Homo sapiens: one gene and its partners. The gene in region 1 interacts genetically with each later gene. Each region holds a gene or a part of one and is shown in the gene's direction. Other genes may lie near its edges.

Region 1 (2,764 bases):
GAGACACAGGTTCCACAGACGGTGCAATGGAAATAACGCTAGCTTTCCACCCCTCCCTCCAGTCAGAATGAGATTACAGGGAAATAAGCTTGCCCCAGAGCTCACTGGGGGATCTCTCAGAAATCAGCTCAGAAGTCGTGAAAGAACCAAGGTGCAGTTTTGGAGGCTTAGTGCAGAGATGGAGCTGGGGTAGGGCATAAAGTAGGTTTTTCATCACTGAGGTAAGGTTGAGGCATTATTTTTTATTTTTTGTTTATTTATTTATTTTTTTGAGACGGAGTCTCGCTCTATCACCCAGGCTGGAGTGCAGTGGCGCGATCTCCCCTCACTGCAAGCTCCACCTCCCAGGTTCACACAGGTTGAGGCATTATTAAAAATATGTTTAAAAATATGGGCCCTAGTAGCCAGACTTCTATCACCTGGAGAGATTATCCCCCAAATTTCAGCCCCACTCCCCTCCTGGACTTGAATTAAACCATATGTATTTATTCAATATTCTTTTTATTTATTTATTTATTTTTTTGAGACGGAGTCTTGCTCTGTTGCCCTGGCTGGAGTGTGGAGTGCAGTGGTGTGATCTTGGCTCACTGCAACCTCTACCTCCCAGGTTCAAGCGGTTCTCCTGCCTCAGGCTCCAGAGTAGCTGGGATTACAGGCGCCCGCCACCACACCCAGCTTATTTATTTATTTATACTAGAGATGGTATTTCACCATAGTTGGCCAGGCTGGTCTTGAACTCCTGACCTCATGTGATCTGCCTGCCTTGGCCTCCCAAAGTGCTGGGATTATAGGTGTGAGCCACCGTGCCCGGCCCTCAATATTCATTAAGTGCCAACAACTACCACCCGTCTGCCTTTCTTGGAGCCACTCCTTTATGTCAGGCATATAACAGTAAGACTTTGGTCCTGTTCACAAAAGCTAGGGGTGGCTAGATGGCTAGACAAACCATGGAATGGGATGGGAAGTGTGTTGCAGTTGCCAGGCAGAAGCATGAAGGGGATGGGACAAAAGAGGCAGTGGCAAGATCTTAGATGCCCACGAGTGCCAAGAAAGCAGGTGGGCAGACCTGCTCTGTAGGGAGGCCTCGACGCTTGACACGCCCGACACTGTGCCCTGTGTCCTCGGCACGTGGCGAGGGCGGCCAGGGCCTAGGCGCAGTGACGGGCGCGGCAGCCGGGCCGGGGTGCGGGGCACGGGCTGCCCTCATGCCCTCGCGTCTTCCCCCAGGAGTGCATCCGGGCCTGCAAGCCCGACCTCTCGGCCGAGACTCCCATGTTCCCGGGAAATGGCGACGAGCAGCCTCTGACCGAGAACCCCCGGAAGTACGTCATGGGCCACTTCCGCTGGGACCGATTCGGCCGCCGCAACAGCAGCAGCAGCGGCAGCAGCGGCGCAGGGCAGAAGCGCGAGGACGTCTCAGCGGGCGAAGACTGCGGCCCGCTGCCTGAGGGCGGCCCCGAGCCCCGCAGCGATGGTGCCAAGCCGGGCCCGCGCGAGGGCAAGCGCTCCTACTCCATGGAGCACTTCCGCTGGGGCAAGCCGGTGGGCAAGAAGCGGCGCCCAGTGAAGGTGTACCCTAACGGCGCCGAGGACGAGTCGGCCGAGGCCTTCCCCCTGGAGTTCAAGAGGGAGCTGACTGGCCAGCGACTCCGGGAGGGAGATGGCCCCGACGGCCCTGCCGATGACGGCGCAGGGGCCCAGGCCGACCTGGAGCACAGCCTGCTGGTGGCGGCCGAGAAGAAGGACGAGGGCCCCTACAGGATGGAGCACTTCCGCTGGGGCAGCCCGCCCAAGGACAAGCGCTACGGCGGTTTCATGACCTCCGAGAAGAGCCAGACGCCCCTGGTGACGCTGTTCAAAAACGCCATCATCAAGAACGCCTACAAGAAGGGCGAGTGAGGGCACAGCGGGGCCCCAGGGCTACCCTCCCCCAGGAGGTCGACCCCAAAGCCCCTTGCTCTCCCCTGCCCTGCTGCCGCCTCCCAGCCTGGGGGGTCGTGGCAGATAATCAGCCTCTTAAAGCTGCCTGTAGTTAGGAAATAAAACCTTTCAAATTTCACATCCACCTCTGACTTTGAATGTAAACTGTGTGAATAAAGTAAAAATACGTAGCCGTCAAATAACAGCAGCATGGATCGGAGGAGCACAGTGGTTTCCATGCGGTAGGATATTTCACAGGACTTAGTGAGCGTGAAAGGAAAATGTGCTTCCTGCCCCCACCCCCAAATGGATCTTCGAGGGATCAGATAGTTTGGGTGAAGGCACAGGGTGGCTCCAGCACCTCTAGGATGGCCGTATTTTCCACACACTCCACTGAGTGGGAGACTGCTCAGCTAGCACACGTGTAAAGGCAGGATTCCTGCAAGAGTGACCCCGGGCGCTCAGGGGCTCCCCGGCTCCGGTCCACCTCCAAAAGCCAGTTGGACAGGTTGAGGCCTACCCACGCCTGGGAGTGCTCTGGACTGTCAGGTGAGAAGTCTTGGTAATGTCTCCGGGGAACTGCTCGTAGCAATCCATGGGACCTTAGGCAAGTCTCTGAACTTCTCCAAAATTTAGTTCTTTCATCTACCCCTCCCTTCCCAGTATGAGGGTTATTGTGAAGATTAAAGGAGAAAATGGACATAATCTTCTTTTTATCATAGAAGCTAAGTGTGAGAGCTGAGGGTTAGTATCAGTTCCAATTTCACTCCCAGGCTACTCACAGATACGCTCAGACATACGGTCTCTCTCACACACACACACTCATGGAGACACACATCTGTTT
Region 2 (3,340 bases), about 150 Mb from region 1:
TATACAAAAAATTAGCTGGGCATGGTGGCGGGCACCTGTAGTCCCAGCTACTAGGGAGGCTGAGGCAGGAGAATGGTGTGAACCTGGGAGGTGGAGCTTGCAGTGAGCCAAGATCGTGCCACTGCACTCCAGCCTGGGCAACAGAGTGAGACTCTGTCTCAAAAAAAGGAAAGAATGTTGCCAAGTTGGAGGCAGGACCAGGCCTCTTGGCTCCTGGTTTATTCTTCTTCCCACCCTATTTACTAGCACATATTATTGAAAGCTGCCCAACAAAACTCTATACTGATGGAAATGTTCTGGAGCTGCAGCATCCAGTATGGTAGCCATTAGTCATGTGTGGCGGTTAGGCACGTGGAATATGGCTGGTTCACTTGAGGCACAGAGTTTTAAATGTAATTTAAATTAATTTCAATCTGAATAGCCTCACGGAGCCAGCAGCTCCCATATATTGTACAAAGTGAATCTAGGCTTTTACCTTCATGAGTTGCTGGACTAGGAATCAGAGTTTTTCAGGAGATTTTATTTGACCAGGTTAAATTTTATAAAAGACAGTTCCATGGCCTTATGAACTAGATAAAAGTAAATAGGAAAAGTTCTCTATCACTGAACGAAGGAAATTATAGTAGAAAGTGGAATTATACTTTTATACTCATTTAGAGTGACCTAACCTGAGGAGCATTGGGTCCCTACCATTTAAGGGTTTTATGGTGCTCAGAGTTTGGGAAAATGACAGCAATCATTCTTTCATGATGGTGTATTCGAATTTGTATTGTGATTCACCCCACAGATCCAAAGGCCTCAAGTAAATGGCATTTGTTCCATAAAATTTACTGTAAAAGGCAGAAAAATACCCATAGTATATCTATATTTTATTTGGATTTGTGCTTTTATTTAGAGAATTTATTTTCTAACCTTTGTCTCAATAAACTGCCGAAGTCAATCTTTTGCCTCTTTTGGAGTTCATATTCTCCTGCAGGAAGAAACTACCCAAAGCTACAATCAGCAATGTATATACGTTTTCCCTATTAGAATGATTTTTGTCCACAAGATTTCTGTTACAAAGAGAAAAATCAATGAGCTGACTAGTGTCATCCATATAAATATTTGACCAGAGATGTATGGTGAAGGGTGTATTGAATATGACAATGAAACAATGCAGTGGCTGTTCATTGTTGGTTGACTGAAAGTGGTCTGTTTGTAAACAAGCCACTAGTAGAAGGCAGATTAAAATTTGAGATGTTCTGTTGTTTGGCTCTTATACACAAAACTGTAAAATTGACTAAATACCTTGCTTCCTTGTAGTGTGGTTTCTTCAAGAGAAATAAGAAAGATCATTATGATGCCACATATCACAAGGCTGAGATCCATGCTCAGCCATCTGATAAAGAGAGGCTTACTTCTGATGCATAGTATTGATCTACTTCTGTAATTGGTAATTGATCAATGTTTTTTAATTGCTAGCTGTGGGACCCGCTATGGTTGTGGTGGCTAACTTTAAGAACAACAGCTTGCTATGTGTGTCCCATTAACAGATGTTTCCAAATGTCCACACTGGCTTGCCTTGCTTGGATTTGTTTTATTTTATTTCACTTGAAAGCTCAGTTTTTGTTTTTTTTAATGCACAGTCTTTCGTTGCAGGTGAGTTATTTTATGTTCTTGTTAAATATCTACCACAGCAATGAAGAAAATTTGCAATATTTGTACACACAAAAAGAGACTTTTAGCCCTCCATAGTAGCCCAGTTTGCAATGTGTTATTAATTCGGTATGTAGCATTCCACTAGGGAATTCAAAGATGCATAAGAAATCATTCTAGATTTCTTGTCCATTTTGGAATTTTCCACAGATAGAAGCTGTGTCGACCGCCTAATTAACCTGTTGCATGTTGGAAATGTTGTGTTTCTCTTGGTGAGGCTTCCTCACTGTCATCTTTTTGTTCTCTTTGCTATAAAGTGATGGGGAAGGCTTGGAATGCTTTTTACTGTTGCTCAGGAATCGTTTTATGCTAGCTAAGCATGCAACTTCCATTTCCTGCATGTCTCCTACAGGTCAAAGACCATTACAACAAACTGATTATCAGCATGATGGGCTTTTATGGCCAACTTCAGAAGATGATCCCTTACCAAAGTTACCTTCCATCTACAAAATTCTAGTACAAAAAATACCCTGAACAGTTTTTATTGCAATATGTTGTGATGGAGTTTGACCATATTTCATGTATCCAGAGATTTTATCCAACCTTGGATCTCAGTTGATTTTAAATTCAAGTTTCTCTTATTTGGAAATACATGGAAATAGGAATTGCTAGTGATCCCTTTCACCATTTACGTGGGCATGAGAGGACAGAATTACTCCTGTAATCCTTTCCATGGCACTATCACAGTGAATCACAACATTGCCATTCAGCTTTACATATTACCCTTAATTTCCCTCTTTGTTTAAATGGGGTAGACAGCAGTCATATTTTGTAATAGATAGGTACTTTGGCTTTTTTTTCTTTTTTTTTGCACAGAATAATAAATGAATCCATGTAGAAATGACCTGGAACAAAACATCTTGGTCCATTTTGCCTATTGATTTAGTGATAACTATACATATAATTTTATCTTGCTCCATGGCATTTTTATAACATAACATCATTCAACATAAATGTCCTGTTACTATTGACGTCACACAATAAACACATTAACAGTTCTATCAATATCCTCATTCTTCTAAACTGCATTTTAAAGTTGAAAACACCTTTTTTTAAAAAAAGTAAATATATTTCATTTAAAAATTTAATCTCAATTCAAATTTTTTCAGATATATTCTCAGTAAAAATATACTTTGGATCAGATTGACTATTTAAATGAATTTTATATATATATATAAACACACACATTAACAGTTTAAAGGTAAATGTATTTTTGCAAAAGAAGAGAAATTAGGGAGTGCTCTGAAATTCAGTGTAGTGATGCACTTCTGAAGTCCTATGCAGCACATGATTTTTATTGCAGGAAACAGTTACTATGTGATTAATGAAATAGCTTAATTAGAAGCACAATAGCAAATCCAGGCAACATAAATGACCTCCTGGCTAATGAGAGAAGTGATATGTGTACTAGAGCCTCAGAGGAGAGAAAAAGATTATAAAGTTGACCTGTTGGAACACTGGCATATTCAAATAGTAATTTGTAAAATACTTGTGACATGATTTGCATTTTATTAGTGGGAAAGGGGCATGAAATAATCTTTGGTTTATGCCATTTAAAAATTATTCTTAATCTAATCTGATAATCAGATATTTTACATATCATATTGTGATTATTTTTAAATATGGAAGCACTGTTTTCATAAAC
Region 3 (4,001 bases), on another chromosome or scaffold:
ACGCGCCCTGATTGGCCCAGTGTTAGCCAATCAAAGCTCTCGCATCCCCATGGTGCTGATTGGTCCGCCTCCCAGGCCTGACCCAATCGGAGCATTCCTAGGAGGAGCGGCCCCAGAGCCCCTGACTCGGGGGTCCCAGAGCCCTCTGCACACCACAGCCCCGGTGTCCCCGTGTGTCCCTGGGTTCTCCCAGCCCTGGTGTCCCCTGAGTCTCTTCTTCACCGTCAGCCCTGGTGTCTCCCGTGTCCCTGCCACACCCTCATCCCTGGTGTCCCCCGTCACCCCATCCCCTCACCTCCTGGGCTCCTGAAGGTCCCATCTTGTGGGCCTCATTCATGGAACCAGGACGGGGCAGGTGGAGGCCTCTGGGGAGTTTGTCCAGAGAATGGAGGAGAAGCAGGGTCATGAGCAGGAGCGGTCTGGGCCACCCCTGCCTGTCCCCCGGGGGGTGCAGCCCGGAAGGAGTCCAGATGGATATGGCCCCGCAGTGCAGAGTCAGCCCCAAACCAGGCTGGTCCCAGGCAGGGTGGGGGCAGGAGGAGCCCCGGAGTGGCCCTGTGTTGGGGGTCGGGGGGCAGGCAGGGGGTCCTGGGGCTCAGAAGCGGAGGAGGTGGGCTGGAGGCCCCAGTGACCAACAGGCCCAGGGGAGTCGGGAGGTGGGGTGGACGGACCTGCAGGGACAGTGTCAGCGCTGAATGGGATGGAGAGCACAGGGAGCTGGGGCCGGGGATGAGACCATGGGGAGCTGGGGCTGGGGCTGGGACTAGTCCATGGGGAGCTGGGGCTGAAGTTGGGGGTGAGTCCATGGGGAGCTGGGCTGGGCCTCCTGGGGTTGCACCTGCACTCCTCTCTGCTCTTCCCTCTGCGTATGAAGCTCAGATCCCATGATAAGGAGGCACCTGCAGACCAGGGGACCTGCACGGACAGCCCCAGAGGTGGACATTGAGGACTCGTAGGAGGACTTGGGTCTCATACGGCGGGTGGGGAGCAGGGCCCCTTCCTGGCTGAGGACACTTGGTGCTGTCCCCTCTCAAGGCTGTTTCCCCATCTGACAAAGGGGTCTCACGTGAGCCCCCAACCAAGTGAGTCGAGGAGGGCTGGCCCCACCCCCGTGGATTCGGAGTCCGTAGGAGGGGTGTCACCCGTCATGTCCCCACCCCGTGGGCACCTTCCCGTCTCTTGGAGCGTGGCCCATGGACATGAGTTCCTCACCCGTGTCCCTCTTGGGGAAACAGGTTTCAGGAGCGACGGGTCTTGTAGCCTGGGGCAGCCAGGCCACCTGGGTGCAGCAATGCCTGAAGGCCTCCTGGCACCGAGACAGGGGCAGGAGCAGATCCCACCAGCGGGAAGGTGGTGGGTTCCAGTGCTGGGATCCACCAGCTGACAGGTGGAGCTGCCAGTCTCCAGTGCTCAGCCCTCAGCGGGGCCTGCCTGGCAGCCCCACACACAGAGGGCATCGGGGTGGCGGGGGCACGTGTTACACGGGGGCCCTGGGTCTGAGTCATCCACTTCCTCCGAGTCTGGATGGGAGGACCCAGCGCCCCTCCTCCGCCCCCTCCTGATCTGGAAGGATAAATGGGGAGGGGAGAGCCCACTGGGTAGAAGGAACAGGGAGCGGCCAGGGTAAGTCCCCACTCTCAGAGACCCTGACATCAGCGTCACCTGGAGCAGAGTGGCCCAGCCTCAGACTCAGAGCACCAAGACCCAGGCCCGCAGGCCTGGACCCACCCCGGTCCCCCCGTCCCAGCTCCATTCTTCACCCCACAATCTGTAGCCCCCAGCCCTGCCCTGTGAGGCCCGGCCAGGCCCACGATGCTCCTCCTTGCTCCCCAGATGCTGAATCTGCTGCTGCTGGCGCTGCCCGTCCTGGCGAGCCGCGCCTACGCGGCCCCTGGTGAGTCCCAGCCGGGGTCCACCCTGCCCCTCACCACATTCCACAGGTCAGGGCCTGGGTGGGTTCTGGGGAGGTCGGGCTGGCCCCCACACAGGGAAGGGCTGGGCCCAGGCCTGGGGCTGCTTCCTGGTCCTGACCTGGCACCTGCCCCAGCCCCAGGCCAGGCCCTGCAGCGAGTGGGCATCGTCGGGGGTCAGGAGGCCCCCAGGAGCAAGTGGCCCTGGCAGGTGAGCCTGAGAGTCCACGGCCCATACTGGATGCACTTCTGCGGGGGCTCCCTCATCCACCCCCAGTGGGTGCTGACCGCAGCGCACTGCGTGGGACCGTGAGTCTCCCGGGGCCTGGAGGGGTGGGGAAGGGCTGGATGTGAGCCCTGGCTCCCGGGTGCTCCTGGGGGCTGCCCAGGGCCCTGAGTGGGATCCTCCGCTGCCCAGGGACGTCAAGGATCTGGCCGCCCTCAGGGTGCAACTGCGGGAGCAGCACCTCTACTACCAGGACCAGCTGCTGCCGGTCAGCAGGATCATCGTGCACCCACAGTTCTACACCGCCCAGATCGGAGCGGACATCGCCCTGCTGGAGCTGGAGGAGCCGGTGAACGTCTCCAGCCACGTCCACACGGTCACCCTGCCCCCTGCCTCAGAGACCTTCCCCCCGGGGATGCCGTGCTGGGTCACTGGCTGGGGCGATGTGGACAATGATGGTGGGTCTGGGGACAGTGGAGGTGGGGCCAGGGTCTTAGCCACAGCCCAGCCCCTGGGCTCCCTCTGGGCTCCAGGTGGGGGTTGCCCGGCCCCCTCCTGAGGCTGCACCCTCTTCCCCACCTGCAGAGCGCCTCCCACCGCCATTTCCTCTGAAGCAGGTGAAGGTCCCCATAATGGAAAACCACATTTGTGACGCAAAATACCACCTTGGCGCCTACACGGGAGACGACGTCCGCATCGTCCGTGACGACATGCTGTGTGCCGGGAACACCCGGAGGGACTCATGCCAGGTGGGCCCCGCCTGTCCCCCGCCCCCCGCCCCCCAACCCCCACTCCCAGGCCTGTTCGGCGAGCGCTGACCTCTGACCTTCCCAGGGCGACTCCGGAGGGCCCCTGGTGTGCAAGGTGAATGGCACCTGGCTGCAGGCGGGCGTGGTCAGCTGGGGCGAGGGCTGTGCCCAGCCCAACCGGCCTGGCATCTACACCCGTGTCACCTACTACTTGGACTGGATCCACCACTATGTCCCCAAAAAGCCGTGAGTCAGGCCTGGGTTGGCCACCTGGGTCACTGGAGGACCAACCCCTGCTGTCCAAAACACCACTGCTTCCTACCCAGGTGGCGACTGCCCCCCACACCTTCCCTGCCCCGTCCTGAGTGCCCCTTCCTGTCCTAAGCCCCCTGCTCTCTTCTGAGCCCCTTCCCCTGTCCTGAGGACCCTTCCCTATCCTGAGCCCCCTTCCCTGTCCTAAGCCTGACGCCTGCACCGGGCCCTCCAGCCCTCCCCTGCCCAGATAGCTGGTGGTGGGCGCTAATCCTCCTGAGTGCTGGACCTCATTAAAGTGCATGGAAATCACTGGTGTGCATCGCTGTGTTTCTGGTTGTGGATGTCACTGGGAGAGAAGGGGTCCAGGTGTGCTGAGGACACCTGCCACAGTGTGAGGTCCTAGCCCTCAAGGCACAGCCAGTCACCGTGGGACGGGGCCTCCTGGGCAGCCCTGGTCCCCGAGGCTGGCTTCTCCCCACACGATGCATCCAGCATTCGGGTCACACAGAGCCACTCGGGCAACTCAGTTGATTATAAAGGACAGCCAGGTCCCTGCAACCGGGTCAAGACAGAGAATGGTCGCCGGGAGCCCCAGGGCTGCCCATCATGAGCCCCTACCCCACGCTTCCCACGAGCTCTTCTCCCGGCCCCTCTGTCCACTGCTTGTGCTTTGCCTAGTTGTTTGCTTTGAGACGGGATCTCGCTGTGTCATCCAGGCTGAAGTGCAGTGGTGTGATCAGGGCTCACTGCAGCCTTAACTCCTGGGCTCAAGCGATCCTCCCATCTTGGCCTCCCATATAGCTGGGCCACAGGCGTGAGCCACCACGCCCAGTTAATTTTTGTATTTTCAGTAGAGATGGG

Evidence for each region.
Region 2: changes in POMC (region 1) and ITGA6 together harm fitness more than expected from each alone (negative genetic interaction), as found in Homo sapiens cells (one large-scale study listed by BioGRID).
Region 3: changes in POMC (region 1) and TPSAB1 together harm fitness more than expected from each alone (negative genetic interaction), as found in Homo sapiens cells (one large-scale study listed by BioGRID).

Annotation. Positions count from the first base shown.
Region 1 is NC_000002.12:25,160,216-25,162,979, reverse strand, and holds the end of POMC (pro-opiomelanocortin preproprotein), read left to right. Parts: intron 1-1,227; coding exon 1,228-1,899; 3' UTR 1,900-2,120; downstream 2,121-2,764.
Region 2 is NC_000002.12:172,500,470-172,503,809, forward strand, and holds part of ITGA6 (integrin alpha-6 isoform b preproprotein), read left to right. Parts: intron 1-1,302; coding exon 1,303-1,410; 3' UTR 1,411-1,432; intron 1,433-2,838; exon of another isoform or gene 2,839-3,340. UniProt on the Homo sapiens protein: Integrin alpha-6/beta-1 (ITGA6:ITGB1) is a receptor for laminin on platelets. Integrin alpha-6/beta-1 (ITGA6:ITGB1) is present in oocytes and is involved in sperm-egg fusion.
Region 3 is NC_000016.10:1,239,106-1,243,106, forward strand, and holds TPSAB1 (tryptase alpha/beta-1 precursor), read left to right. Parts: upstream 1-1,599; 5' UTR 1,600-1,623; intron 1,624-1,833; coding exon 1,834-1,894; intron 1,895-2,047; coding exon 2,048-2,219; intron 2,220-2,328; coding exon 2,329-2,594; intron 2,595-2,721; coding exon 2,722-2,885; intron 2,886-2,970; coding exon 2,971-3,135; 3' UTR 3,136-3,449; downstream 3,450-4,001. UniProt on the Homo sapiens protein: Tryptase is the major neutral protease present in mast cells and is secreted upon the coupled activation-degranulation response of this cell type. May play a role in innate immunity.